Linked DNA regions of Homo sapiens. The protein of the gene in region 1 purifies or fractionates together with the protein of each later gene. This does not show direct contact. Each region holds a gene or a part of one and is shown in the gene's direction. Other genes may lie near its edges.

What was found.
Region 2: the proteins of TMEM192 (region 1) and ACP2 purify together in Homo sapiens (affinity purification with mass spectrometry; 3 studies listed by BioGRID and IntAct, with this or other methods). This does not show direct contact.
Region 3: the proteins of TMEM192 (region 1) and RAB7A purify together in Homo sapiens (affinity purification with mass spectrometry; 2 studies listed by BioGRID, with this or other methods). This does not show direct contact.
Region 4: the proteins of TMEM192 (region 1) and LEMD3 purify together in Homo sapiens (co-immunoprecipitation; 2 studies listed by BioGRID and IntAct, with this or other methods). This does not show direct contact.
Region 5: the proteins of TMEM192 (region 1) and SYF2 purify together in Homo sapiens (affinity purification with mass spectrometry, with the first as the bait; one large-scale study listed by BioGRID). This does not show direct contact.
Region 6: the proteins of TMEM192 (region 1) and ERO1A purify together in Homo sapiens (affinity purification with mass spectrometry, with the first as the bait; one large-scale study listed by BioGRID). This does not show direct contact.
Region 7: the proteins of TMEM192 (region 1) and TAX1BP1 purify together in Homo sapiens (affinity purification with western blotting; 2 studies listed by BioGRID and IntAct, with this or other methods). This does not show direct contact.

The regions. Positions count from the first base shown.
Region 1 is NC_000004.12:165,102,671-165,106,842, reverse strand, and holds part of TMEM192 (transmembrane protein 192), read left to right. Parts: intron 1-3,746; coding exon 3,747-3,893; intron 3,894-4,172.
Region 2 is NC_000011.10:47,242,073-47,246,244, reverse strand, and holds part of ACP2 (lysosomal acid phosphatase isoform 1 precursor), read left to right. Parts: intron 1-410; coding exon 411-563; intron 564-672; coding exon 673-771; intron 772-822; exon of another isoform or gene 823-850; coding exon 851-940; intron 941-1,377; coding exon 1,378-1,510; intron 1,511-2,923; coding exon 2,924-3,006; intron 3,007-3,120; coding exon 3,121-3,227; intron 3,228-3,346; coding exon 3,347-3,522; intron 3,523-4,172.
Region 3 is NC_000003.12:128,809,011-128,813,182, forward strand, and holds part of RAB7A (ras-related protein Rab-7a), read left to right. Parts: intron 1-4,172.
Region 4 is NC_000012.12:65,239,075-65,243,100, forward strand, and holds part of LEMD3 (inner nuclear membrane protein Man1), read left to right. Parts: intron 1-854; coding exon 855-956; intron 957-1,061; coding exon 1,062-1,164; intron 1,165-1,834; coding exon 1,835-2,013; intron 2,014-4,026.
Region 5 is NC_000001.11:25,225,695-25,229,866, reverse strand, and holds part of SYF2 (pre-mRNA-splicing factor SYF2), read left to right. Parts: intron 1-743; coding exon 744-869; intron 870-1,631; coding exon 1,632-1,749; intron 1,750-2,334; coding exon 2,335-2,425; intron 2,426-4,172. UniProt on the Homo sapiens protein: Involved in pre-mRNA splicing as component of the spliceosome.
Region 6 is NC_000014.9:52,685,193-52,689,364, reverse strand, and holds part of ERO1A (ERO1-like protein alpha isoform 2 precursor), read left to right. Parts: intron 1-4,172. UniProt on the Homo sapiens protein: Oxidoreductase involved in disulfide bond formation in the endoplasmic reticulum. Efficiently reoxidizes P4HB/PDI, the enzyme catalyzing protein disulfide formation, in order to allow P4HB to sustain additional rounds of disulfide formation.
Region 7 is NC_000007.14:27,791,627-27,795,798, forward strand, and holds part of TAX1BP1 (tax1-binding protein 1), read left to right. Parts: intron 1-379; coding exon 380-604; intron 605-1,439; coding exon 1,440-1,586; intron 1,587-2,696; coding exon 2,697-2,820; intron 2,821-4,172.

The DNA.
Region 1 (4,172 bases):
AGTGAAGTCCCATGATAGGCCACCTGCAAGCTGGGGAAAGGGAAGGTGGTAGTGGCTCAGTCCAAGTTCAAAAGCCTCAAAACCAGGGAAGCCAACAGCGCAGCCTTCAGTCGGCAGCCGAAGGCCTGAGAGCCCCAGGCAAGCTGCTGGTGCAGGTTTCAGAGTCCAAAGGCCGAAGAATCTGGAGTCTGATGTCCAAAGGCAGGAATTAAGGAGGCAAGCATCTGACGCAGGAAAGAGAGAGCCAGAAAACTCAGCAAGCTGCTTATACGCCTATTCTGTGCTTTGTTCTAGCTGCATTGGCAGCTGATTGGATGGTGCTTGCCCATATTGAGGGTGGGTCTTCCTCTCCCAGTCCACTGACTCAAATGTTTGGCTCCTCACAGACGATACTTTGCCATCCATTTGACACTTAATATTGACCATCATAGGGAGCTACCCAAAGTTTTTGAGGAGAGAAACACGAATGTTTGTCTTGGAGCAGTGAAAGAGATTGCCAAGACCAGAAGACTGGAAGCTTCTAATAAAAGGCCATGAGAAATGGGAGGGCCTGGACTAAGATAGTGAGAATAGAGAGGAAATAACAGGTTTAGGAGTTAGAATGGTAATGATTTTTTCTCTTTTTATCATGCCCCAGCACTGAGTGGATAGAATGGTAATGATTATAGGGGTAGTGTCTTTGTTTGGGTTGCTATAGTAAAATACAAATAGGGTAATTTACAAATAGAAATGTATTGACCACAGTTCTAGAGGACAGGAAGTCCAAGATTAAGGCAGCCACGGATTCAGGAAGCCCAAGATCAAGGTGCCAAGAGCCCTGGGGAGGGGTTGCTCTCTGCTTCAAAGATGGCGCCTTCTTGCTGCATCCTCACGCAGTGGAAGGTGGAAGGGAGCTCATTCAAGCCTCTTTTATAAGGGCACTGATCTCATTTATGAGGGGGGGAACCCTCATGGCTTAATTACTTCCCAAAGGAAAGCAGGGAACTATTGGGGGACACCAACATTTAGACCATAGCGGGGTGCAAGTCAAAAGTAAGAGTTAATAAAAAGGCCAAGTGTGGTGGCTCACACCTGTAATCCTAGCACACTGGGAGTGCACTTGGGAGGATTGCTTGAGGCTAAGAGTTCAAGACCAACCTGGCCAACATAGCGAGACCCTGTTGATTTTTATTTTAAAATTTAAAAAATATTAAAAAGAGAAAAGAGTTAATAAAGAAATAATAGTGGCTAATACTTATTGAGTGCTCTCTGTGCGTCAGGCAGTGTCATGAGGACTTGCATGTGTAGTGACTCATTTAGTATTCCTGACAGAGCTACGAAGCAGGTGCTATTATTAGTCTCCTTTTTAGATGTGGAAACTGAGGCATGAGAGATGAAGTAACTTGCTCTCAGCTAGAAAGCGGTAAAACTTGTGCTTGAATCCAGGCAGTTTGCCCTTAGGAGCCTGACCTTAACCACAGCTCTTACTGCCTTTGGTCACAGTTGATCCCCCGTATGTCCTGATAATCTCTTCTAATTAGCCCAGGTCTTTGATGATGCCCATAATTGAATTAGAAAATACTGCAGAAACAGGTTTGGGGCACTCATTCATTCATCTAGCAAATGTTTGCTGAGTGACAACCATGAGATAGTGTTGAGTGCTGGGATTACAAAGACAAGAGGTGTAAAGGTAATGGGTCCAATGACGTCTAGTGGAGAAGAGATAAGTAAGAGACCATCACAGGATAGTTTGATAGAAGAGGCAAGCACAGAATGCTTTGAAAAACATGGAGGGTGGCACAATCCAGATTAGGGGTATCCAGAAAGGCCCTGTGGTGGGAATTGCCCCTTCTGAGCATGAAAGAATGCACAGACATTAGCTAAGGGAAGAGCAGATCTCAAGGCTCCAACATCTGCTGACTGAGAATGAGCTAGAGGCAGAGGGGTCTTGAAGAGAACAGGAGTAATCTGAATTGTACCATGAGTTATGGTAAACTAAACAGGAAGCAATCTAGGCATTGAATAAAAGACTTGGCCAGGCGCGGTGGCTCATGCCTGTAATCCCAGCACTTTGGGAGGCTGAGGCAGGCGGATCACCTGGGGTTGGGAGTTTGAGACCAGTTTGGCTAACATGGCGAAACCCCATCTCTACTAAAAATACAAAAATTAGCCGGGCATAGTGGCGCGTGCCTTTAATCCTAGCTACTCAGGAGGCTGAGACAGGAGAATCGATTGAACCCAGGGGGCAGAAGTTGCAATGAGCCGAGATTGAGCCACTGCACTCCAGCCTCGGCGACAGAGCGAGATTCCATCTCAAAAACAAACAAACAAACAAAACAACAAAAACAGTTGCAGAGCAGTGTTGAATACCTGCTACTGGAAATTGAGGAGCCCACTCCAGAGCTAGGTTACACCCTAGATTACTGTCCTTATCTTTGTAATCTTAGCAATCAACAGCCATCTCTTACATCATTTGTCCTACTACCTACTTCCAAAATAAAGAGCTCTCATTCTGTGTAGCCAAAACCTATTCATGAATCCTTCATTTCTGTCTCATTGTAGTGCAGTTAGCTGACCTAAATTTTTTGGCATTGTCTTCTATGCTTTTCATTTGCTGATTTGTTATGTGCTTCCCATGAACCATATTCTTTTTTTCTTTTTTTTAACATGTGATGAGAACACTTAAGATCTACACTCTTAGCAAATTAAAAGTATATACAATGCAGTATATATCCATATTTTTGAGACGAAGTCTCTCTGTCGCCCAGGCTGGAGTGCAGTGGCGCAATCTCGGCTCACTGCAACCTCCACCTCCTGGGTCCAAGTGATTCTCCTGCCTCAGCCTCCCGAGTAGCTGGAATTGCAGCTTGCGGCCAAGAGTTCAAGACTAGCCTGGGGCCGGGCACTGTGGCTAATGCCTGTAATCCCACCACTTTGGGAGGCCGAGGTGGGTAGATCACCTGAGGTCAGGAGTTTGAGACCAGCATGGCCAACACAGTGAAACCCTCCCTCTACTGAAAATACAAAAATTAGCTGGATGTGTGCCGGGCACGGTGGCTCATGCCTGTAATCCCAGCACTTTGGGAGGCCGAGGCAGGCGGATCACCTGAGGTCAGGAGTTCGCGACCAGCCTGACCAACATAGAGAAACCCCATCTCTACTAAAAATTAAAAATAAAAAATTAGCCGGGTGTGGTGGTGCATGCCTGTAATCCCAGCTACCCCAGGAGGCTGAGGCAGGAGAATTGCTGGAACCCGGGAGGTGGAGGTTTCGGCGAGCCAAGGTTGTGCCAGTGCACTCCAGCCTGGGCAACAAGAGTGAAACTCTATCTCAAAAAAAAAAAAAAAAAAAATTAGCTGGGTGTGGTGGTGCACACCTGTAGTCCCAGCTACTCAGGAGGCTGAGGCAGGAGAATTGCTCGAACCTGGGAGGCAGAGGTTGCAGTGAGCCAAGATTGCGCCGCTGCACTCCAGCCTGGGCAACAGAGCGAGACTGTCTCAAAAACAAAAAACAAAACACAAACAAACAAGACCAGCCTGGGCAACATAGTGAGACCGTGTTGCTACAGTTTTTAAAAAATTAATTAATTTTTTAATTAATTAAATTAAATTAATAATTAATTTTTAAAAAATTGGATTCAGGTAGGCAATGTGTTCTCTTGCCTTTAATTTGTATGTGGTTAAAAAGCTCTGTAGTTTAGTAGATTTGTCTTAGAAACATAATCTAGAAAGTGGTGATTATAGGTTGCTTGTTTTTCTGCACCCCAGGGTTCCTTGGATATCACCCAGAGTATTGAAGACGACCCACTTCTGGATGCCCAGCTTCTCCCACACCACTCATTACAAGCTCACTTTAGACCCCGATTCCATCCTCTTCCTACAGTCATCATAGTGAATCTTCTGTGGTTTATTCATGTAAGTTGGCTGCAAGAAGGGGACCTATCCAGAGGTGATGTTTGTAAAAATTATATAAGTGTTTCAGAGGGCAGTTGTGCTGTATCTATCAACATTTAAAATGTAGGGCACATGTTCTTAGGACATCCTGAGTGCTGTGTCATGGGCAAAAAAAAAAAAAAAAAAGTACGTACACTTTTACTTATATCTTCAAATAATTCATTGTGGATATATTTGCACACATGTAAAGATATTGTTGATAATAGCCATGTTGTCTGTCATATCAAGAGACTACAAACT
Region 2 (4,172 bases), on another chromosome or scaffold:
AGTTTCTGCCCCAAGGACCCTGATCTAGACAGGGAGAGAGGTGTTGTTATGAAACCAGACAGACCAGAGAGCCTTACTGATTGACTCAGCACTTTTGACTGGAAGGGGCATTTCAACTAAGGCCATTCCCACAAGAGTTCTTCACAGAGTGGTGACAACCCCCAGTGGAGTGTTTGGGGGATGGGGAAGGCCAGAGGCCAGAGGAGGGTGAGGGCCAGATGTATGGTAGGTTTAGTTTGCTGGGTGACCATCAGGAACAGGTTCTCCTCTGGGGCTCCACTTTGGGGTGACCAAAACTTCCCACCACACACACACACATACATACAAGGCTCCACTTCAGGGTGACCAAAACTTCCCCAACACACACACACACACACACACACACACGACTTGTGTTGCTATCGCTGCAGGTTTATGTGCGAAGCACAGACTTTGACCGGACTCTCATGAGTGCTGAGGCCAACCTGGCTGGACTCTTCCCTCCCAACGGGATGCAGCGCTTCAACCCGAACATCTCGTGGCAGCCTATTCCTGTGCACACTGTGCCCATCACTGAGGACAGGGTAAGAGTGGCCAGCCCTTCCCTGGGGTGGTGAGGGGACAGCTCTGGCCGTAGGCCTGCTGATGCCAGGCTCCTTTTCCCGCTGCCTGTTTCCCCGCTTCGCTCTACAGCTGCTGAAGTTCCCGTTGGGCCCATGTCCCCGTTATGAGCAGCTGCAGAACGAGACCCGGCAGACACCAGAGTATCAGAATGAGAGTTCTCGGAATGCAGTGAGTGGGGGCAGAGGTGCAGCTCACCACGCTGTCTTTTCCCCAGAGCAGGACTGAGACCCTGATCCATTTTTCATAGCAATTTCTGGACATGGTGGCCAACGAGACAGGGCTTACAGACCTGACACTGGAGACCGTCTGGAATGTCTATGACACACTCTTCTGTGAGGTGAGCCCACTAGGGTGCCCACTGTGATCATTCTTTTCCCTCTCAGCAGGCCCAGGTCACCAGGACGGTAGAACACAGTGCCTGATACCGTCACGCCCCTGGGGAGGTCCAGGGAGGCTGTGCTTGTGAAACACGGGAACTTCCCTCATGGGTGACAGAGATCCTCAGAGTGGGAAATGGTTTATTAATTGTCAGCAGTCCCTGCTGCTCTCCACCCAGAGCTCCTTTCTGCTGAGTCTCACTTTTTGTGCCTGAGCTTCCTTTCCTGTGCCCTGAAGCATCCACACCGCCTGCCATGTCTACTGGTTCCAGCCCCTCTGCCTCTCTCCCCTCTCCCTCCCTCACACACACAGGCACCTTCCCACTAGGGAAGAGAGCTGCCCCCTGGAGAGGCTGGCCTAGGCCTGGGGCGCTAACCTGCCTGCTGCGATACACAGCAAACGCACGGGCTGCGCCTGCCGCCCTGGGCCTCACCCCAAACCATGCAGCGTCTCAGCCGGCTAAAGGACTTCAGCTTCCGCTTCCTCTTCGGAATCTACCAGCAGGCGGAGAAGGCCCGGCTTCAGGGGGGTGAGTGACAAGGACAGCGTGTCACTCTACTCCTCAGGACCCTAAGGCGTTAAAAATCTGCTGTGGGGGCTTCTCACACACTTCCCTCTCTACTGAAACACTCCCTGCTCTTTCAAAACCAAATCCCCCTCCTCATGCCGCTAGTCACCAAATTTCCCCACCTCTCTTCCTTTTCTGCCATTCATATTCTTTTTAAAAAAATTGTTATTTTTTTTCGGGGGGATGGAGTTTCCCTCTTGTCACCCAGGCTGGAGTGCAATGGCTCGATCTTGGCTCACTACAACCTCTGCCTCCTGAGTTCAAGCAATTCTCCTGCCTCAGTCTTCTGAGTAGCTGGGATTGCAGGCACATGCCATCATGCCTGGCTAACTTTTGTATTTTTAGTAGGAACGGGGTTTCACCATGTTCGCCAGGCTGGACTCAAACTCCTGACCTCAGCCACCATGCCCAGCTAATTTTTGTATTTTTAGTAGAAACAGGGTTTCACCATGTTGGCCAAGCTGGTCTTGAACTCCTGACCTCAGGTGATCCACCCACCTTGGCCTCCCAAAGTGCTGGGATTACAGGCATGAGCCGCCATACCCAGCCTATTTATTTTGAGACAGAGTCTTGCTCTGTCACCCAGGCTATAGTAGAGTGGCACGATCTCGGCTCATTGCAGCCTCCACCTCCCAGGTTCAAGCGATTCTCCCGCCTCAGCCTCCTAAGTAGCTGGGACTACAAGTGCCTGCCACCACGCCCAACTAATTTTTATATTTTTAGTAGAGATGGGGTTTCACTATGTTGGCCAGGCTGGTCTCAAACTCCTGACCTCTGGTGATCTGCCCGCCTCAGCCTTCCAAAGTGCTGGGATTACACACATGAGCCACCACGCCCAGCCCTGCCATTCATGTTCTTAAGTTTCGCCCACATCAGAAGACCCTCCCTCTCCTAAATGAATAGCTGCCCCAAGAGAACCACTGGGGGCCATTTTGAGAAGGCTGAGAGTAACACACATGCCAGCTTCCTTATTTGAGCACCTAAGGGCATGCCTGCTGTCACACCTTTTTGACATCTCACTTTTCAGAGCATATGGTAGTTACCCGGGCATGCACCCACCCGCTGTGTACTCTGAAGCAATCTTAAGTTTACATTTGTTTCAAACTGAAGTGCTTCTGTAAACACAGGCAGGTTTCTACATCCGTGTTGAAATATAGGCAGATATCTTGTTTTGTCTTGCTTCCTTCTGTACATTTGACAGTTCTTAGAGAGGAGGGGTGCCACAGAGTTCTTACATGGTCCCTATGACACTAAAGAGTTCTCCGTGTAGGTGATGAGGCCCAGGCCTGGCAGAGGGTGAAAGGAGCACAGATAGGTCTAATTAGAAGGCAGAGGTGGCTGTAGCCAGCAACACCGGGGACTTTTCTCCTTCAGGAGTCCTGCTGGCTCAGATAAGGAAGAACCTGACCCTAATGGCGACCACCTCCCAGCTCCCCAAGCTGCTGGTTTACTCTGCGGTGAGTGCCTGCGCTCCCTAGCGTGCTGTGTCAGGCAAGGAGCTGGATTTCTTCTCTGTTCGGTTCCTGCGGGTGTGGGGAACAATGCTGACGGGCAGCCCCTCTCCCCCGCAGCACGACACTACCCTGGTTGCCCTGCAAATGGCACTGGATGTCTACAATGGTGAACAAGCCCCCTACGCCTCCTGCCACATATTTGAACTGTACCAGGAAGATTCTGGGTGAGTGGAGCTAGCAGTGTCCTCTGGAGGGGGGCCCTCGGGAGGTGGCTCGGGGCAGCCCAAGGACCCCATGATGGGCAGGCTGAGCAGCTCCCATGTTGCCTCCTGTCGACCCTCAGGAATTTCTCAGTGGAGATGTACTTTCGGAACGAGAGTGACAAGGCCCCCTGGCCGCTCAGCCTGCCTGGCTGCCCTCACCGCTGCCCACTGCAGGACTTCCTTCGCCTCACAGAGCCCGTCGTGCCCAAGGATTGGCAGCAGGAGTGCCAGCTGGCAAGCGGTCCTGCAGACACAGGTGAGCTGTCACCGGCCTCCTTGCTAGTCATGCCCTAGACCAGCCTGCAGTTCACATCCACGCATCTCAAGAGCTGTCGCACTTCCAGCCATTTGACTGCATTTGCTAGGAGTTCCCTCCCCGACCCCAGACTGCTTTATACCTTCTCCCCACTTCTCACCCTCGGGTGATGTCTCACTTGTATCACCGAGAAAATAAGAGCCAAGAGAGAATTGGCTCGTTCTCCCACCACCAGGTTACTTCCTGGGGGAAGCCACCGCTTAGGGTGGCCTCTCCACCCGCACTTGGGTTCTCTCCTCATCTCTGCAAGGAGCTCTGACGCCTCTGCTTCTCTACTGGATCACTTCCCTCCCAAAAGCCCATCCATGACCTCTGAGAGCCACCTCTTCCCCAGCCACCAGCCTCTTCCCTCTCAGAATGGAATCCTTGAAAGAGCTGCCTAGAATCTGGCTCTGCTTCCTCACCACTTGTTCTCTTAGACTCACATTAGACAGTCTTGTGTCACCTTCCACTACCCTGAAGCCATACTTGTCTGGTGACCAGTCACCTCCTACCAAAGCCAGTGACTAATTCTTAGCTTCTCTCACCTCTCAGCAGCATTACATAATTGGTCACCCCTTCCTGAAACACTTTCTTGGCTTCTGACTTTC
Region 3 (4,172 bases), on another chromosome or scaffold:
GCAGACTTGGCCACGCTTACCCCCAAATAATAATGTTTGTGTTTTTCTTAATGTTCATATAAGGGAATGGAAATCCAAATATGTGTAGGAAAGTGTTTCCCACCTGTTCCCTGTTGCCTGGCATCACTGTCTGAGTTTTTCTCTTCCATCACTACTGTCCCTGTTGTCTTTATGCTTTTATTTTTAGAGCTAGCCCTTAAGAAGTTAGATTGTTAAATCGGAGGGTGTATCTTATTGTAAGTCAGGGTGCCAGGTTGCTTTCCCCAAGGGGAATAACATTTCAGCAATGTGGGCTTGCTTTCTTCTACCTCCTTGCCAGCAAGCAATAGGTGTCACCTGTCACTGCTGACATTGCCGATCTTTGGGTGTGTAAATTGCCACCATCGTGACTACTGGTCCCTCTGAGTTCCCCTCCCTGGGGCTTAGCCATTTGGATTTTCTCTGCTGCACACAGCCGGCACACAGCACATGGTTGGGCCTCTCTCAGTTCTCATGAGCTGTTGGTGAATTGAAGTTAACTCTACTTGCATCTTAAGTGACTTTTCCAACTCTGTGGTCTTTTTAAGTCCTTTGAACATAGGGAAAAAGTAATTTTTTATTTGGTTATGTCATTTTAAGTTTCTATGTTTCCTGTGTCTACCTCAGATTTTTCTGTAATTCAGCTGGAATTTGTTTTGGCTTATGGCAGAAAAGAGAGACTTGCCTTTCCTCTCAAGAGAGCTCAGCCAGTTGTTTGAAATCATTCAGCTATGTTACACAAGCCGTTTCCCTCCCTGAATAGACCGTGGCCTGTGCTAAATGCTCGTATGTGCTGGGATCTGTTTCTGGTCTCTCCAGTCTGTTCTGGTGATGTCCATGCCATGTTCCCTTATCTGGACTGTGTTGATTTGACTGCCTGATGAGGCAAGTTTCCTCTTGCCACAGTCTTTTTTTTTTTTTTTTTTTTTTTTTTTTTTGAGACGGAGTCTTGCTCTGTTCCCCAGGCTGGAATGCAATGGCGTGATCTCGGCTCACTGCAACCTCCGCCTCCCAGGTTCAAGCGGTTCTCCTGCCTCAGCCTCCTGAGTAGCTGGGATTACAGGCATCCGCCACCATGCCCAGCTAATTTTGGTAATTTTTTAGTAAAGATAGGGTTTCACCATGTTGGCCAGGCTGGTCTGGAACTCACATTGTGAACCGCCCGCCTCAGCCTCCCAAAGTGCTGGGGTTACAGGCATGAGCCACCGCACCCGGCCTGCCACATTTCTTTTTTAATAATTTTGTTTCCACCATTTTCCTCTCTTACCTTCCACACCCCAAATAAAACTCTGTTGAGATTTTGATTGGAATTTTTTTCTTCAAGCCCACTGTTTTTTCCTCATTGATTGCAGTTTTGTTGTGGCTGTTGCATTAGTCTGCTCAGGCTGCGTTAACAAAACCCCACAGCCTGGGAGGGTCCAACAACAGACATTTTGTTTTCTCACAGTTCTGGAGGCTGGAAGTCCATGAGCAAGGTGCTGGCACATGTTTCTGGTGAGGGTGCTTTTCTGGGCTATCTTCTCACTGTGTCCCTCCCATGCCCTTTCTGCTGTGTGCACAGAGAGAGGACACATGAGCAAGGTGTCTCTGGTGTCACCTCTTCTTATAAGGACACGAATTCTCAGATCAGGTCCCCATCCTGCAACCTCATTTAACCTTCATTCCTTCCTTACTCCAAATACAGCCACCTGAAGGGTTAGTGCTTCAACACAGGAATTTTGGAGGAACACAAACATTCTGCCCAGCCGAGTGCGGTGGCTCATGCCTGTAATCCCAGCACTTCGGGAGGCTGAGGCGGGTGGATCACCTTAGGTCAGGAGTTCAAGACCAGCCTGGCCAACATTGTGAAACCCCATCTCTACTAAAAATACAAAAAATTAGCTGGCGTGGTGGTGGGCACCTGTAATCCCAGCTACTTAGGATGCTGAGGCAGGAGAATTGCTTGAACCTGGGAGGTGGAGGTTGCAGTGAGCCGAGATTGCACCATTGCACTCCAGCCTGGGCAACAAGAGCGAAACTCCATCTCAAAAAAAAAAACAAAACATTCCACCCATGATACTATTTTAGGTCTTGTTTCTGTTCCTTCAGTAAGATTGATTGATTCTTTTTTTTTTTAGAGACAGGGTCTTGCTCTGTCAGTCAGGCTGATACGCAGTGGTGCAATCATCACTCGCTATAACCTCCAACTTCTGGGCTCCAGCAGTCTTCCCACCATAGCCTCCTAAGTAGGTAGGACTACAGGCACACCCATGCTATAATTGATTTATAATATGATCCTTTGCCTTTCACAGTAAACATATTCCTAGGTACTGGTGGGAATATAAAATGTCACTATTTGTAATAGCCAAAAAGTAAGAACAACTCAAATGTCCATCAACTGGTAAGTGAATAAACAGGGCAGCTTATCCATGCATTCTAATATTATTCAGCTATAAGAAGGAATGAAGTAGTGACACATGCTGCCACATGGGTGCTAAGTGAAGGAAGCCAGTTGCAAAAAGACCATATGTTGTACGATTCCATTTCAGTGAAATGTCCAGCCCGGATGCAGTGGCTCATGCCTAAAATCACAGCACTTTGGGAGGCTGAGGCCGGAGGATCACTTGAAACCAGGAGTTTGAGACCATCTTGGGCAACATAGCAAGGCCTCATCTCTACTAAAAATTAAAAATTAGCTAGGTGTGGTGGCATGAGCTTATAGTTCCAGCTACTTGGGAGGCTGAGACTGGAGGATTGTGTGAGCCCAGGAGTTAGAGGCTGCAGTGAGCTGTGATCATGCCATTGCACTCCAGCCTGGGCGACAGAGCAAGACTCTGCCTCAAAAAAAAAAAAAGAAAGAAATCACAGTCCACTAGAAGAAATGGGGAAAATTAAAATAAATAAATAATGTTTAAAAATTAAGTGTCCAGAATAATAGGCAACTCTATTGAGACAGAAAGTAGATGAGTGGTTGCTGGGTCCAGGATGGTATAGAATGGGGGTGGGAAGGAACTACTAATGGGCATAGGGTTTTTTGGGGGGTGATGAGAGTATTTTAAACTTAATGTTGATGGCTGCCCAACTTTCTGAATATACTAAAAACCATTGAATTGTACACTTCATGGCATGTGAGTTAAAACCCAGCAAAGCTATTAGGAGTGCAATGGCACCATCTTGGCTCACTGCAACCTTGACCTCCCGGGTTCAAGCAATTCTCCTGCCTCAGCCTCCTGAGTAGCTGGGATTATAGGTGCTTGTCACCATGCCTGGCTAATTTCTGTATTTTTAGTAGAGACGGGGTTTCACCATGTTCGCCAGGCTGGTCTTGAACTCCTGACTTCAGGTGGTCGACCTGCTTCAGCCTCCCAAAGTGCTGGGATTACAGGCGTGAGCCACCATGCTCAGCCAAAGCTGTTATTTTTTTAAGTATGTATTCCTAGATGTTTTATACTTTTATAGTTATTGTGAATGGAATGATTTTTTTCCTAGATAACTTTTAATGAATAGAAACAGTTCCTGCTTTATCTCCAAATTCTAGAACAGTCACTGGCACACAAGTGCTCAGTGTTTAAGTGACATTGTTTTCCTGCACCCAAAAGTAGAATGCTGCTCCTCATTGGAAGCATGTTACTTTAGCAAAGTGCCACTAAAATGACCATAGTCCATGTGCTCTGATCACTTGTCACAGATGGTGATAAAATTCATTCACAGCTTCCTTTCTAGGCCTGCAGCATTTGGGAGACAAAACTCTGCTAAACCTTTGGAAGAAAAAAGAGACCAGAGGCCATTGGTCCCGAAAAGTGGATGGAAGATAGGGAGGTAGAAGGAATGTTACAGGCTGAGAGGGCAGCTCACACTCAGCTCCAGCCACTTCACCTCGTGCACACACTGGCTGAGGGTTGCCAGATGTTTGAGAAAAGCTAGAAATCCAGACCATTGTTAACCATTGGCAACTATAGGGAACATACAGAAAGCATCTGAACTGGATGTGGTAGAGCTCCCAGATCATGATCTGATTGAGAATGTCCATGAACTTCTGTCCTGATTGCTCAGTGCAGACTGCTGCTTCTTCTGGCAAGACTCCTCTCTTCACATTGACCTGGAGTTGTCACAAAATCTGTTTTTCTCTTGCTACTCCCCTGAGCATGGCACCTTCTGCCAGAGCGCTCCCTTAA
Region 4 (4,026 bases), on another chromosome or scaffold:
ACTTTAGAAAGTAGAATTGAAAAATACAAAAATTGAGCTTATTTTTAAATAATAAAGTGTTATAAAGTTTATTAAAATTTAGTTTTTAAAATGTAATTTACCTACATTTAAAATTTTTATCATTTTTTAATTGATAATAGGGATTTAGGTGAGAGTTGTTTTTTCATTCTTTCTTTCTTCTTTAAAAATAATTCATTTTGGCCAGCTTTAGTGGCTCACACCTGTAATCCCAGCACTTTGGGAGGCAGGAGGATTGCTTGCACTCAGGAGTTTAAGACCAGCCTGGGAAGCATAGACCCTACCTCTACAAAAAAATTTTTAAAATTAGACAGGCATAGTGGCACGTGCCTGTAGTCCCAGCTACTTGGGAAGCTGAGGTAGGAGGATTTCTTGAGCCCAGGAGTTGGAGGCTGCAGTTAGCCATGATTGCACTACTGCCCTCCAGCCTGGATGACAGAGTAAGACCCTATCTCAAAAACAACAACAACAAAAGAAAAATTCATTTTACTTAAAGTAAGATTTAGTATGTTTAATCTCATGAGGTTCACTTTTCTAGTCGTTTTATGCTTCAAAGGAAAAAAGTTTGTGAAACATAGTTATATATATATATTTTTAAATAGTAGTTAGAATTTAAATGTTCACTTATCAGTGTAATGGAAGAAATGCTTTTTTCTAGAAAGTGAATCTTTGGAAAATGTTCAGTATTAAATTTTTTTATGTAGTTTTAATTATATAGCTAATTCAGCCATCTGTCTTGAAGGTTCATTCCGTTGTGGCAGTTAAAATAATCACTGAAATATTATTGAATGATATTGACCACAATTTTTAAAATACAAAGTATATTAATATTACAGGTGTAGTGATGGTTTGTGTCGTTCTGCGTTACATGAAATATCGATGGACAAAAGAAGAGGAGGAAACAAGGCAGATGTATGATATGGTGGTAAAGATTATAGGTATGATATTTGTAAGAATCTCAACTATTTCTAGAAGAGTCATTGCATGATTAAACTACATTATGTCAAGTGATTGATTCATTTGTAAATTTTATTTATTTTTAGATGTTTTACGAAGTCATAATGAAGCCTGCCAGGAAAACAAAGATTTACAACCTTACATGCCTATTCCACATGTACGCGATTCCTTAATACAGCCTCATGACAGGTGTGTTCAAAGCATTATGAGTTCAAGTAAATCAGAAAATTTAAGTGCTTTCTGCAGTATTGAAAATTATATTGAGAGCTGTGACCCTTCTCAACTAGACTTGCTTACTGCACAGGTTTTTTTTGGTTTTGCTTTGTTTTTGTACTTTATACTCTCTTTCTAAATTCTCTTCCATTCTCCTGATTTTGAGTGACACCTGGATTTCTAAGTCATTCTCATTCCTAGGCATTCTTGATTCTTTGTTGTTAGTCTCCATCTTATTTCCTTTAATTTCATCTTGATAAAGAAATAGATGACAGCCAGTGGCTGGTGTTTTACTAATGTTTTTTAAGTACTAACTTTATTATTAATGAAGCTTTTAAAGTAAAAACTAAAATGCAACTTTTTGAAAATAAAAGATAATTCCATATCCTGAAGCAGCATCTTGACCCTAGCAACACATAAAGCCAGTGGAGCTTTTGGGGAAAAAAAATACAGATGTTTGTGCTCTAGCTCTGGAAATTGAAACTCAGAAAATCTGAGATGAGATATAGGCATCTAAATCTTCTTTGAACAAACTCCATGAGTAGTGGTAAGAACAGCTAGAGTTAACTATTACCTCAGATACTAATATTTCAAAAAGATGACAAGCCAAGATGATAGTAAATTTGCCATTTTGTTCACATGATAGGAAAAAAATGAAGAAAGTCTGGGATAGAGCTGTTGACTTCCTTGCTGCTAATGAGTCTAGAGTTCGCACGGAAACACGAAGAATAGGTGGTGCAGATTTTCTGGTTTGGCGGTGGATCCAGCCTTCTGCATCCTGTGACAAAATATTAGTTATACCTTCTAAAGTATGGCAAGGTCAAGGTATGTATTTTTAAACATCAAAAAAGTAATTTTCTTCTAATTTTTCAAAATGACAAATATGTGTTAAGTGAAACAGTACAATTCAAAGATGTATGAAGGCAAAACTCTCTCGTTCTGTTTCGTAGAAGGAATCAGTGTTAGCTTCTTATGTATCCTTCCACACTTTTATCTTTGCTAATGCAAACATAAATGGTTTATCTTTAATAAAGATGAATATTCCTTGAATCTTGCCTTTTTCACTTAATGAAGCAACTTAGTATTATATATATTAACTGCATTCTTTTCATCTAATTTCTTTATGTAAATAAGACACATAATTTATGTTATATATACAATAAAATATATATAAACTATATATGTATATAAGTGAAGTCATAACTTTTTAACTGCTCTTTTTTTTCCAGTTTTTGCCTGCCTCCTCTTACTAAGACCTTTCTATTTATATATTCCTCCTGCCAAGTAACTTTTGTGGGTATCTTTCCATATTTTTCTTAATGCCTACATAGTTTCAAAAACATGTATAAATAAGAAAGGGGTAAGTTTATAGGGGGTTTTGAAGATTGGCTGTCATATGTACCCAAACCTTTACTACACAGAAAAGCAGAAAACAATGCATCAGAAAATTATGACTTTTTCCCTATAAAAGTATGTCAGTATTTGCTAAACATAGTATTTGTGGAAAAGGTAAGTTGTTTTGGACATGCAATACAAAGTCCAGTCACTCCTTTTTTATTCTCCAATTAATTTTCACTTTGAAAAAGCTTGAATAAGAGGCTTCTTTAAACATGGCATAAAAGTGATGCTCTGTCAGGGTAAACAGCTAAAGCAGGCAGGGCTTAATACCTGGGTGATGGGTTTGAGTTGATAGGTGCAGCAAACCACTATGACACACGTTTACCTATGTAACAAATCTGCATGTCCTGTACATGTATCCCAGAACTTAAATTAAAAAAATGATGCTTTCATGTTGCCAATGATTATACTATTTCCTCTAAATGATGCATGCATTTCAGTTTCCCTATAAACTGAAAATAGAGAATTCCTTATTTTACTTGACCTCTTAACAGTGTTTGACAGTTCAGCCCTCCTTGAAACTTTCTTCACTGGGATTTGGGGATGCCACCTTCTTCTGTTTTTTTTCTCCTACCTCAGACTTTTTCTTCAGTCCTTTTCTAGATTATCCTCTTTTTCTTCACCTCTAGGTGTTAGAGTTTCTCAAGGCCATCTTTTTTTTCCCACTCTGCCATTTCTCCCTAGATAATCGTCTTGCTGTGACTTAATTTACCATATTGGGATAACTCCCAAATTTTTTATTTTGAATGAAGTCTGGTTTTCAGATTTTTGTACCCAACTATATATTTCTGTACTAGGAGGTGGGCACCACAGATTCAACATGTACACCAGCCTGATCCTCTTCAGTGTTCCTAGTCTAGTTAATGATACCTTTCCTGAGTTGATTCTGCCATAAACTTAGGGATAATTCTTAATCTCTCCTTTATCCCTCTTTGTCCAACCTTTCAACAGGTCATGTCATATCTACTCCATAATATGTCCTGATTCTATCCGCTTGTCACTTGCACTGTTGGCCTGTCTTACCCACATCATTATCCTCTCCTTCTTAGACAACTATAATATAATAATAACCTTCTAACTGGTCATCTTGCATTCACTTCTGCTTTTACCTGAGTCTCCACATAACAATGTATTTTTAAAATATGTAGTTTTAAAAGACAGATCTCATCCTATTCTACTCCTTAAAACAGTTGAGTGGCTATTACTCTTACCATAATGCCCAAATACTTTTTTGTAGCCTACATCATCTTAAATAATCTGACATCTTCTGTAGGTTTATCTCTATTCTTTCTACTCCAGCCACATTTGCTCCTTCGTGCCCCAGGAGCTGTGTACAAGCAATCACCTCTGCTTGAAATCTTCCTTTACACACCTCTCTTCACCCTGCTAATTTTTATTCTTCAGTTCCCACATAAATTTCACTTTTTCAGGGAAGTTTTA
Region 5 (4,172 bases), on another chromosome or scaffold:
CCAGCTTGGGTGACAGAGTGAGACTCTGTCTCAAAAAAAAAAAAGAAAGAGTGTCTTTCACATCATGTGACGTAATTTTTTTTTTTTTTTTTGAGATGGAGTCTCGCTCTGTCACCCAGGCTGTAGTGCAGTAGTGCAATCTCAGCTGACTGCAACCTCTGCCTCCTGGGTTCAAGTGAATCTCCTGCCTCAGCCTCCCGAGTAGCTAGGATTACAGGTGTGCACCACCATGCCTCGCTAATTTTTGTATTTTTAGTAGAGACGGGGTTTCACCATGTTGGCCAGCCTGGTCTTGAACTTCTGACCTCAGGTGATCCACCTGCCTCAGCCTCCCAAAGTGCTAGGATTACAAGCGTGATCCACTGCACCTGGCCAATTTAATAGTAATGCCAAATAAAGTCTACTTAAGTGCCACTATAGTATGGTCTCCAATACTGCAAAACCTTGTTCTGATCCAATAAAAAGGGACCACACAACTCAATAGAGGCAAAGCTGATTTTAACCTCCAGGGCTCTGGAACAGCAAACCAGTGCAACTCAACACATTTTTCTTGACTGCATAAAAACGTAGACCCTATTAGGCTATTCCCTGGCTTAAAATCCTGTGATGGCTCTCTATTGCTTTTAGGATAAAATGGGGTCAGCTTATTAATATGTCCTGCCTGACCCTCCTCAAAGAAGGCAAGGTGTATCTGGATTTATTTTCATGTTTTAGCTGACAGACTTCTTGTGTTACGGTTTTAGAATGAAGCTCGTAAATTAAATCACCAGGAAGTTGTGGAAGAAGATAAAAGACTAAAATTACCTGCAAATTGGGAAGCCAAAAAAGCTCGTTTGGAGTGGGAACTAAAGGAAGAGGAAAAGAAAAAGGTTAGGAACTATTCTATCTTCATAAGTGATTTAGTCAATCATTCTGTTGTATCAAGACACTACAACATGGTGGTTGTATACACTGGCTCTTAGGCCAAGCTGCCAGAATTGAAATTCTGGCTCTGCTCAGTACCAACTGCAACACGTTGGGTGAGTTTATTTAACTTCTCTGTACCTCTGTTTTCTCATCAATAAAACAGGGACTGTAACAATAATTATTTGAGTTCATTATGAATTAAGTGAGTTAATGCATGTAAAACATTTAAAACAAGGTCTGACACCTGATAAACACTCAATAAGTATCATGTGCTCACTTATATACCATAGTATATTCCCAAATTTCCTTTAAATGCTATTAAAGTGGCCGGGTGCAGTGGCTCATGCCTGTAATCCCAGCACTTTTGGGAGGCCGAGGCTGGCAGATCATTTGAGGTCAGGAATTTGAGACCAGCATGGCCAACATGGTGAAACCCCATCTCTACTAAAAATACAAAAATTAGCCGGGCATGGTGGCATGTGCCTGTAGTCCCAGCTACTTGGGAGGCTAAGAGATGAGAATCCCTTGAACCTGGGAGGTGGAGGTTGCAGTGAGCTGAGATCGCGCCACTGCACTCCAGCCTGCGTGACAGAGTGAGTGAAACTCCAACTAAAAAAATACTATTAAAGTATTGGTTGATATTTATTGGATCTTTCTTGATGTAAAGTAGATCAAATTATTGCATGTATCATAATTGTAGGTGTCAGCTTTTTTCTTCTTTTTAGGAATGTGCGGCAAGAGGAGAAGACTATGAGAAAGTGAAGTTGCTGGAGATCAGTGCAGAAGATGCAGAAAGATGGGAGAGGAAAAAGAAGAGGAAAAACCCTGATCTGGGATTTTCAGGTCAGATTGACCTTTATTGAACCTTATTGACTGGGCTGTTAGTCATTTCCTTCATTGTTTCTGGTTTCAAGAAAGGATGTGCCTCTTGTGCTTCGTGGGATATTCTTGATGAGGCTTAAGACCAAGAAAAGTACAAATATGTCTCTTAGGAGAGAAGTTAAAAAAAAAGGCTGTACTTCAGTTAGCCAGGTTTTTAAATACTTGATGATAAAATTTATCAAAGTCTGTTTGTCAGCATCTTCAGGATAGAAGCTATGCTTAGAATAGTGTTATGGGCATATATTACTTCACACAGATTGAGTATCCCTAGTATGAAAATCTGAAATCCCAAATGTTGCAAAATCCAAAACTGTTTGAATGCCAACATGGTGCTATGATGCTCAAAGGAAATGCTGATTGGAGCATTTCAGATTTTGAATTTAAGTATAATAAAGATATTCCAAAATCTGAAAAAAATCAGAAACACTTCCGATTCCAAGCGTTTTGGATAAAAGATACTCACCTGTGATAATTTAGATTTTTCTCTCAATAGGAAGGTCCAAACAAGGAAATATATTATCGCTGATTCTCATTTTATATTTTTAGATTATGCTGCTGCCCAGTTACGCCAGTATCATCGGTTGACCAAGCAGATCAAACCTGACATGGAAACATATGAGAGACTGAGAGAAAAACAGTAAGTCCTTTTTCAACCTGAGGTGATGTGGATGTATTTGTGTGTGTGTGTGTGTATACATGTACATAAATAGAAACATGCTTTAATGCTAAGGTATGGGTTATTAATAGTTGTCTAAGGATGGTCTCTGTTTTTTCTGGATATTTTTTTCCTTTGAGATGGAGTCTTGCTTTCTCACCCAGGCTGGAGTGCAGTGAATGGTGCGGTCTCAGCTCACTGCAACCTCCGCCACCTGGGTTCAAGCAATTCTTCTGCCTCAGCCTCCTGAGTAGCTGGGATTACAGGCGCCCGCCACCACGCCCAACTAATTTTTGTAGTTTTAGCTGAGATGGGGTTTCACCACGTTGGCCAGGCTGGTCTTGAACTCCTGACCTCAAGTGATCCGTCCACCTCAGCCTCCCAAAGTGCTGGGATTACAGGCGTGAGCTACTGCGCCCGGCCCTTCCTTTTTTTTTTTTTAAGAGACGGTGTCTCGCTCTGTTGCTTAAGCTGGAGTGCATTGACACTGTCATAACTCACTGTAACCTCAAACTTGTGGCCTCAAGGGATCCTCCCACATCAGCCTCCCCAGTAGCTAGGATTACAGACATGTGCCACGATTCCTGGCTAATTAATTTTTTTGTGGAGACGGGGTCTCACTGTGTTGCTCAGGCTGTCTCAAACTCCTGGCCTCAAGTGATCCTCCATCCTTGGCCTCCCACATGGTTGAGATTACAGGTGTGAGCCACTGTGCCAGGCCTAGTCTCTGTTTTGACAGCACTGTTTATTGCTTACTTCACAGCTATTAAATTAATCACATGTTTTTTGTTTTGTTCTTAACTGGGCATTCTAAGACTGGTTGTTGATTGGTTAACACCCTGATTGTCGTAGTTACTTAGATATTATTTTAGGAGGCAGAATGCTTTAGTGCTGGGGTTGGTGAACTTTTTCTGTGAAGGACCAGATAGTAAATATTTTAGCTTTGTGGGCCATATAGTCTCTGTCACAGCTATTCAGCTGTGCTGCTGCAGTGCAAAAGCAGCTGCAGAGAATTCATAAATGAAGCCTCTTTTCATAAACAGGTGGTGGGCTGCTGTAGTTTGGCAGCTTGTTTTAGTGGAAAAGGAAATAACCTCAGGATGGAGCTCTAATCCCAGCTCTGTTCCTAGCACTTTGTGACCTCTGATAAGTCCTGGAGCCTCTCTGCCTGTTGGCTCTTTGATCTGTACAGTGAAGGTGTTGGCGTAGATGATGTCTTAGGTTCCTTTCAATTCTGTAATTTTTTATTTTTTATTTTTATTTTTATTTTTTTTTTGAGATAGAATCTCGCTCTGTCGCCCAGGCTGGAGTGCAGTGGTGCAATCTTGACTCACTGCAGCCTCCGCCTCCTGGGTTCAAGTGATTCTTCTGCCAAGTAGCTGGGACTACAGGTGCCCGCCACCACGCCTGGCTAATTTTTTTGTATTTTTAGTAGAGATGGGGTTTCACCATGTTGGCCAGGCTGGTCTTGAACTCCTGACCTCAGGTGATGTGCCCACCTTGGCCTCCCAAAGTGCTGGGATTATTGGTGTGAGCCACTGCACATGGCCCTATTTTTTTTTTTTTGAGACAGAGTCTTGCACTGTCGCCTGGGCTAGAGTGCAGTGGCGTGATCTCGGCTCACTGCAACCTCCGCCTCCCGGGTTCAAGCAATTCTCCTGCCTCAGCCTCCCAAGTAGCTGGGATTACAGGCATCTGCCACCACGCCCAGCTAATTTTTGTATTTTTA
Region 6 (4,172 bases), on another chromosome or scaffold:
AAAAAGAGACAATTTTACGTATTTTTTATTTGGATACCTTTTATTTCTTTCACTTTCCTAATTCACACTTTGAGCATGTTTAAAAGGTATTTCATAAAAAATGTATATGAGGGCCGGGCGCAGTGGCTCATGCCTGTAATCCCAGCACTCTGGGAGGCTGAGGCGGGTGGATCACCTGAGGTCAGGAGTTTGAGACCAGCCTGACCAACATGGTGAAACCCTGTGTCTGCTAAAATACAAAATTAGCCGGGCATGGTGGCAGGCACCTGTAATCCCAGCTACTTGGGAGGCTGAGGCAGGAGAGTCTCTTGCACCTGGGAGGCAGAGGTTGCAGTGACCTGAGATTGCACCATTGCACTCCAGCCTGGGCAATAAGAATAAAACTCCGTCTCAAAAAAAAAGTATATGAGGAATATATTCTTATAGTGCTTTGTGTGAAAAAATAAAATGGTAATGTATAATAAGACTAGAATATATTGGTATACAAGAAAACTTTAGAAAGTGTTGTTTTGTCTTTCATTGCAAATTAAAGGATACCTCTGACATGAGAGTAGTGAACAAGCGGTACGTGGTAATTTTCCTTTATCCTGCCTTTTGCATTTGGTCAAATCAAACAGAGTCAACAGAGAAGGTAATTGAGGCTCCCTCCACAGCTAACTGTTGGTTATCTAGTTCTTTGTTCCATTGGGGCTACAGATGTCAAATTTTTGGGAAATTTTAGCTGCAAATTCGGCTGTATTTTTCTTATTCATTATGAAAATGCCATGTGCTGCTTTGGGAAGTAATACATGCTTCCCTTTCATTGGAAGCATTTAAGTAGAAGTAGGGTAATAATAATGATTAACATGTACTGACAATTTACTTTGTACTATTTATCTTGGTATCAACTCTTTGAGATGAGAACTATTACTATTTTCTATTAAGATGAGAAACCAAGGCCTAGAGAGGTTAAATAGCTGGGATAAAGTGAAAAACTAATGACTGGCAGAGATGGGATTCAAACCTAAGGAGGTCTGATGTTAGAACATACACGCTAACTATTGTTACACACTACCTGTTCCTTGAGGGATGTGAATGGAGGGATTTGCTGTTTTGCTTGGGAGATTGTAATAGAAAGCCTTCCAAGGCTTTCTAACTCTTAAAAGACTAGGACTTTTTTTTTTTCTTTTCTATTTTTTTGAGGCAAGGTCTTGCTCTGTCATTTAGGCTGGAGTACATTGGCATGATTATGGCTCACTGCAGCCTCAACCTCCCTGGCTCAAGCGATTCTCCCACCTTAGCCTCCTAAGTGGCTGGGACTACAGATGTGCACCCAATGCCTGGCTAGTTATTTTATTTTTTTGTAGAGATAGGGCCTCACTGTGTTGCCCAGGTTGGTGTCAAATTCCTGTTCTCAAGCAACCCTCCTGCCTTCACCTCTCAAAGTGCTGGAATTACACGTGTGAGCCACCATGCTGGAACAGAAGGCTGGAATTTTGAAGTGGTCCATGTTACTTGTCAGGCCTACCTTGGTCCTCCTATTTACTGTTCCTCAACTGGGGCCTTCTTATCTCTGCTTATTAGATTGGCCCTCTACCAAAAGCTATCATTACTTGAAGCCTAGAGCAGTTAGCCTCAAATGTTAGGATACTAACCTTTAAAACACATTAGCATTTAAAAAAATTTAGATTCCTGTGGTAGGTCAGAGTTCTGTTTTACTTTGGGATATAGCGTAGTAATTTTCCCCCTTACCCGCATTGTTCCATGTAGTAGTTATTTAGGCAGCCTTAGCACATCCTGAAACAACATCCAGTCCTCCCTGTTCCAGGTTGCCACCTGTCTTTGGTCTTAGTTGAGGTAATAGGATTTTGCTTTGTTTCCCGGATCCTGTTCTGTGTCTATTAACTGTATTTTACCTTAGCCCTTTCCTGAGGCTCTATTCTTTTTTGTTTTTTGAGACAGGGTCTCACTCCCATTGCCCAGGCTGGAGTGCAGTGGTGCAATCTCAGCTCACCACAGCTTCGACTTCCCAGGCTCAAGCCATCCTCCCACCTCAGCCTCCTAAGCAGCGGGGACTGCAGGCGTATGCCACCATGCCTGGCTAATTTTTTTTTGTAGTTTTAGTTGAGACAGGGTTTTACCATGTTGCTCAGGCTGATCTGGGACTCCCAGGCTCAAGAGACCTACCAACCTTGGCCTCCCAAAGTGCTGATTACAGGCATGAGCCTGAGATTCTATTCTAGTAACATGCTTTGTTCTCTGGTTTCTAGAACTGGTCCTGCCACCATCTTTGCCAGACTCTCTCCCAGGGATCAGGTTGGCAGGCTTATCTGAGTTGTCAGATGGCATGGATTTCCGAGAATCTTCTTGTCTTTCCTTTACTGAGCTGTCTTCATCCATTGAAACTCCTGCCACCCTTATACTCCCTTAGCAGCCCTGCTACCTGTGGTTGTAGTTAAGAATATCTCCTACTCCATATTTCAGGAAGGGGCAGGACATTTTTTTTTTTTTGAGATGGAGTCTCGCTCTGTCACCCAGGCTGGAGTGCAGTGGTGTGATCTTGGCTCACTGCAATCTCTGCCTCCCCGGTTCAAGCGATTCTCCGGCCTCAGCCTCCTGAGCAGCTGGGACTACAGACATGTGCCACCATGCCCAGCTAATTTTGAATTTTTAGTGGAGACAGGGTTTCACCATGTTGGCTAGGATGGTCTCAATCTCTTGACCTTGTGATCCGCCTGCCTCGGCCACCCAAAGTGCTGGGATTACAGGCGTGAGCCACTGTGCCCGGCCAAGAACATTTTAAAATCTACCAATCTACCATTTATCCTGCCTTCTTTCCCTTTGAGGTCTCTTGGCTATATGCCACCTCTGCTCTGGAGGATTTTTGCATTTCTTTCTGGTTTGGGGCTTCTTAGAGCTTCCTTTGTAATTAGGATAGAGATAGGAAGAATGATAGACACAAAAGGTGTTTACCTTTGCTGCTTGCTTTACTTGCTATGTGTGTTTCTGCCTCCTGTGCTTGTGTACTCTGGGGCACTGAGCACACCATAGGTGACATGGTGCTAGATATGTTTAATGAGACAGTATGGTGCTGGTCTCCAGTGATGAGTGACAATGGACAACATTCATTCATTCACCCACCTCTTCCACAAATAGTAATAATTTATTTGTGACAGAATCTCACTTTGTTGCCGAGGCTGGAGTGCAGTGCAGTGGTGTGATCTTGGTTCCCTGCAACCTCTGCGTTTTGGGTTCAAGCGATTCTCCTGCCTCAGGCGCCCAAGTAGCTGGGACAACAGGCATGGGCCACCATGCCCGGCTAATTTTTATGTTTCTGGTAGGGATGGGGCTTCACCATGTTGGTCAGGCTGGTCTTCAACTCCTGACCTCAAGTGATCCTCCCGCCTTGGCCTCCCAGGGTGCTGGGATTACAGGCCACAAATAATTATTGAGCATCTACTGTGTGCTTTCTGGAAGTATATGATTTTTCACTCAAGGATTTTATACTTTAGTGGGCAGGGGTAAAATAGATAAATTCACTGCTGTGAGGTACAGTAATACTTAGATAATAGTGTGTGGAGTGTCTTGGGAGCAGCTGGGAGAGGCATTTAACCCAGCGGGTGGTAAGGAGTACTGGAAGGACAGCTTCCTGAAAAAGGTGATACTGAGCTGAGGCTTGAAGATATATTTTAACCTTAAAAATGAATTCCTCAGGGGGAAGAATGGATGCCTTGAAACTTGCTCTCAAGTTTTTCATGTGTTTCTTTTTGTAACTTAATGTCTCTACTTTGCATATGTCCCTTTGGCCTTTGCAGTCTCTATGTCTGTCATTCTTTGCATAATAATTCATATCAAAGGGGAGAAACAGCTATTTTTTGTCCCTAGAAGTTCTGCTCTTAAGGTTGAAAAGAAAGTTTGAAAAATCATATCATTTAGGTTAGAAGTACTTTGTGTTGTTGGTATCCAAAATTAGGACTCTGAGATTCTTGTGTATTCAGAGAATTTTTAGTAGGAAACAAGGACAAATTTGCATATGAAATGAAAATAGTTATTACATGACAAAATATGTAGATCTGATTTCTAGAAACTGAATTAGTCCAAAACAAGTAAGAGTGGGAAAAGCAGTAAAAAGTTCTTCTTGAATATTGCTGTTGTCATCCAAAGTATTCTTATTTCTTTTAGGTGAAAAATTT
Region 7 (4,172 bases), on another chromosome or scaffold:
TTCGGAATGATTTTTACTGGTAGTCATACAAAATGAGGGTCAGTATTTCTAGCTGAAGAGATTCTGGGGGATGGGATCTTTTGTTTGAGCCTCAGTTTGGGCAGGTCCTTAAGCACTGGGTATGTTGCCTGACTCGCTGTACTTTAGCTTCCTTGTGTATAAAGTAGTAGCAGTGAAACCAAGTACATAGGGTTGTTATAGAGGGAACCTAAAACAAAGTTACTTCTTAAGTTTTTTGTAGGCATATACTCTGTAAGTCATGAGTAGAAAAACCAATATCTAAAATTTTGGCCCTGTTGAAATATGTGCGAAAATTGTTTCTGCTTCTGTTTTTTACTTGAGTGGTTGAATTACAAATATATTTATCTGCTTTCTTCAGGAAGATACTTGTTTTTTAAAGGAGCAACTTCGTAAAGCAGAGGAACAGGTTCAGGCAACTCGGCAAGAAGTTGTCTTTCTGGCTAAAGAACTCAGTGATGCTGTCAACGTACGAGACAGAACGATGGCAGACCTGCATACTGCACGCTTGGAAAACGAGAAAGTGAAAAAGCAGTTAGCTGATGCAGTGGCAGAACTTAAACTAAATGCTATGAAAAAAGATCAGGTAAAACAAGTTAATTTTGAATTTGCATTTTGATTTAAGAAACCACTATAATCTCACAAAGTAGTAAATTGTGTTAAGATAAGACAGGTCAGATTTCTGCCTTATTTTAAATTTAAAATTTTCATTCCTTTTGTTTAGTCATTGTGACTTCTTGGCTTACAGTTAATGTGTGCTGTAAGGAAAACTTCTGTAAGCAGAATTCTTAATGGTTGGTGAAAGCTGCCCTATTGATTAAATATATTGATGTCAGATATGTATTGTTTTGTTTGGAATTTCTTACTAGCTGTATAAAACAGTATTATGGTTGTTTAAGGGAGTAATAATTGCTCTTCAGGAGGTGGATTATTTTTCTCTAGTTTTTTAAATGAACCTTAGTCCTAAGAATGTAAAACTGGACTTAACAAGAGACCCTATGTTGCTCTGTAGCCAAAATCCCAAAATAAAAAAGTGGCCGGGGACAGTTGCTCACACCTATAACCTCAGCACTTTGGGGGGCTGAGGTGGGAAGATCGCTTGATCCCAGGAATTCAAGACCAGCCCGGGCAACATAGTGAGACCTCATCTCTACAAAAATTTTCAAAAATTACCCAGGTGTGGTGGTGTGCAGCTGTAGTCCCAGCTAGTCCAAAGGCTGAGACAAGAGGATTGCTTGAGCCAGGAGGTCAAGGCTGCAGTGAGCCATAATTGGGCCACTGTGTTTCAGCCTGGGTGACAGAGCAAGACTCTGTCTCAAAAACAAAAAAAAGAAAAAAAGTAAGATTGAAGTTGGGGTTACTATTAACATTAGGAGGTATCAGATTTTTATTTTTTTCTTCAAATGTTTGTTTCTTTCTAGGACAAGACTGATACACTGGAACACGAACTAAGAAGAGAAGTTGAAGATCTGAAACTCCGTCTTCAGATGGCTGCAGACCATTATAAAGAAAAATTTAAGGAATGCCAAAGGCTCCAAAAACAAATAAACAAACTTTCAGATCAATCAGTAAGTATCATTAAATTTACACATAGTAAAATGTGTTGTTAGTATTTTTGTTCGAAAATCAAATTTGTAATATTCCAAATATCAACCTTTTAAATATTATTTATCTCTGCTTGATTTCAAGTCATTGGCCAAATATTGTAATAACTCTTCTTTAAAAAAGTCTGGAATTTTAATTTACTGGACAGCCAACAAAGGAAGCAAGGGCAGTAGCAAGGAAAAAACAGAAAAAAGTCTTCTTTTCTAGATAATTTCCCTCTTAAGTTCTTGATAAATATCTGTCACTCAAAACTCAATACTTATTATTGACTCTTGTGACCATGACATCTATCCTCATTGGAGTTCACCATTAATCATCCCTAGGTCTTAGATGGTGTCTCAGTTGTAATTGGCAAGTTCTTCATACTCATATTATGAAGATTCCTATTCCTATTAGATTAGGAACAGTTAAAGAGTGTTAGCTAATTCTTTTTTATTCCATTTGAGAATAGGTAGGTAGATTTGTAATATACCAAAGAAGATGTTTTTGTTTTGAGGTATGTATGTTTCAATGTGGGTCCTTAAACTGTGCTTAAATACAAGGCTTACTATCTGAGGAACTCCTGGAAATGTAGAAGAAACATATTTAAAACCTGAAATTGAAAGTGGTACTATAGCTCTCTTTTACTATGTGATGCATATGATACTTTCCTGGTCCTACTTTTTTAAATCAGAGGAGACAAGCAAGGAATGCATGTAGTAAAGTAGGAAGGCTTTTGTGAAAAAATATGATACTTTAAGTATGACTCACTCACATGTATGAATTTGGCCTGGGGCCTTTTGAGTACGTTATAACTTTGTAGTAGATTTCTGTGAATGACTTATTTTGGTGGTCTTTTGATGAGTTTATAAGAAAAAGCAAAATATAGTATATTTCTTTTGCAACATTTAGGTCAGTTAGCAAAATGATGTGTATAACTTTAGTCTTTGTTGGCTTTTAAAACAAGAGCAGCTTTGTGGACTTCTTAGGATTTCCTAAAGTAATATGTAAAAATATTATTTACTTAGTTACTGCAAGGAGGAAATATAACTAATTCATTGACTCATTTAACAACTTATTAACATTTTGAATAGGCTAATAATAATAATGTCTTCACAAAGAAAACGGGGAATCAGCAGAAAGTGAATGATGCTTCAGTAAACACAGACCCAGCCACTTCTGCCTCTACTGTAGATGTAAAGCCATCACCTTCTGCAGGTAAAAATCTTTTAGACTTTTTGTGTAGGGTGTCCTACATTGAAAAGTACTTATACTGCCTTCTTCCATGTGTTAGAATTTCAGGATGTTCATAAAAATTTTCATGTGATAAGTGAAGGAATTGAGGCAACAAGAAAATAAGGGTATAAATGTAAAATAGAGTCATGCAAGTGGTGAATATACACAACATGAACATATAAAATGTGAATGTAAACTAGTAGTTATCTTCTTGAGACTATTCACACATGTTAAAAATGAGCTGGTGCTTGTGAGTACTCATTTGGGCTACATAGGACAAAAGCCACGAATTGAATTTTTACTTTATGTTCCATTAAATCTATGGAATTTTGAAGCATTTTATTTGTGGATTTTAATTTTTAAATTCTGCAGGGGAAAAAATCCCCTATTATTCTCATATTTTTCTATTTATTCATTTATTTTTGGCTGCTTTGGATCAATGGGGGTACTTCTTCCCTTGTCAATGTACCTGTTGGCTGATGAGTTAAGTTTTTATTAGTTTATTAACTTATAGAACAGAATAGAGAGACATAGTGAGAACATTAATAACATGAAAACTTGGATTAACTAGGTTTTCATCTGTCCTGATTTTTTCACTTTTATGTAAATTTGACAGTAATGACGTTAAATACTAGAGAAAGTATATTTTCTTGTTTAGTGTGTGTAGTAATTGATCTTTTAAGTCTTTTTAAATGTAAACATCTTAGACTATTAAATATTAGGTTTATCCCCTGTAGGACAGAATTGAGCCTTCTGTTTCCATGTATCCTCTGTAGTACCTAAAATGGTGTTATAGGGTATTTACTTAATAAAGACTTAGTGGTAATGAAGGGCTAGAAGAATGATTTAAAATGTGTTCTTGGTGGGGTATGGTGGCATGCGCTTGTACTCCTAGCTACTCTGGAAGCTGTGGCAAGAGGATCACTTGAGCTCAAGAGTTTGAGGCTAGCCTGGGCAACATAGTGAGACCCTGGCTTTCAGAGAGGGGAAAGAGAATTCTCAGAGTATGGTTTTCCTACTTACCCTGTCTATTCAGTTATATAAGGAGAACAATTTTTGTGCTGTTATGGAACTCTTTTTAGCAAATTTTGTTTTGTTTTGTTTTTGAGACAGAGTCTCACTCTGTCCCCCAGGCTGGAGTGCAGTGGCGTGATCTCAGCTCCCTGCAGCCTCTGCCTTCTGGGTTCAAGCAATTCTCCTGCCTCAGCCTCCTGAGTAGCTGGGACTACAGGTGTGTGTCACCACGCCTGGCTAATTTTTTGTATTTTTAGTAGAGACAGGATTTCACCGTGTTAGCCAGGATGGTCTCGATCTCCTGCCTCGGCCTCGACCCG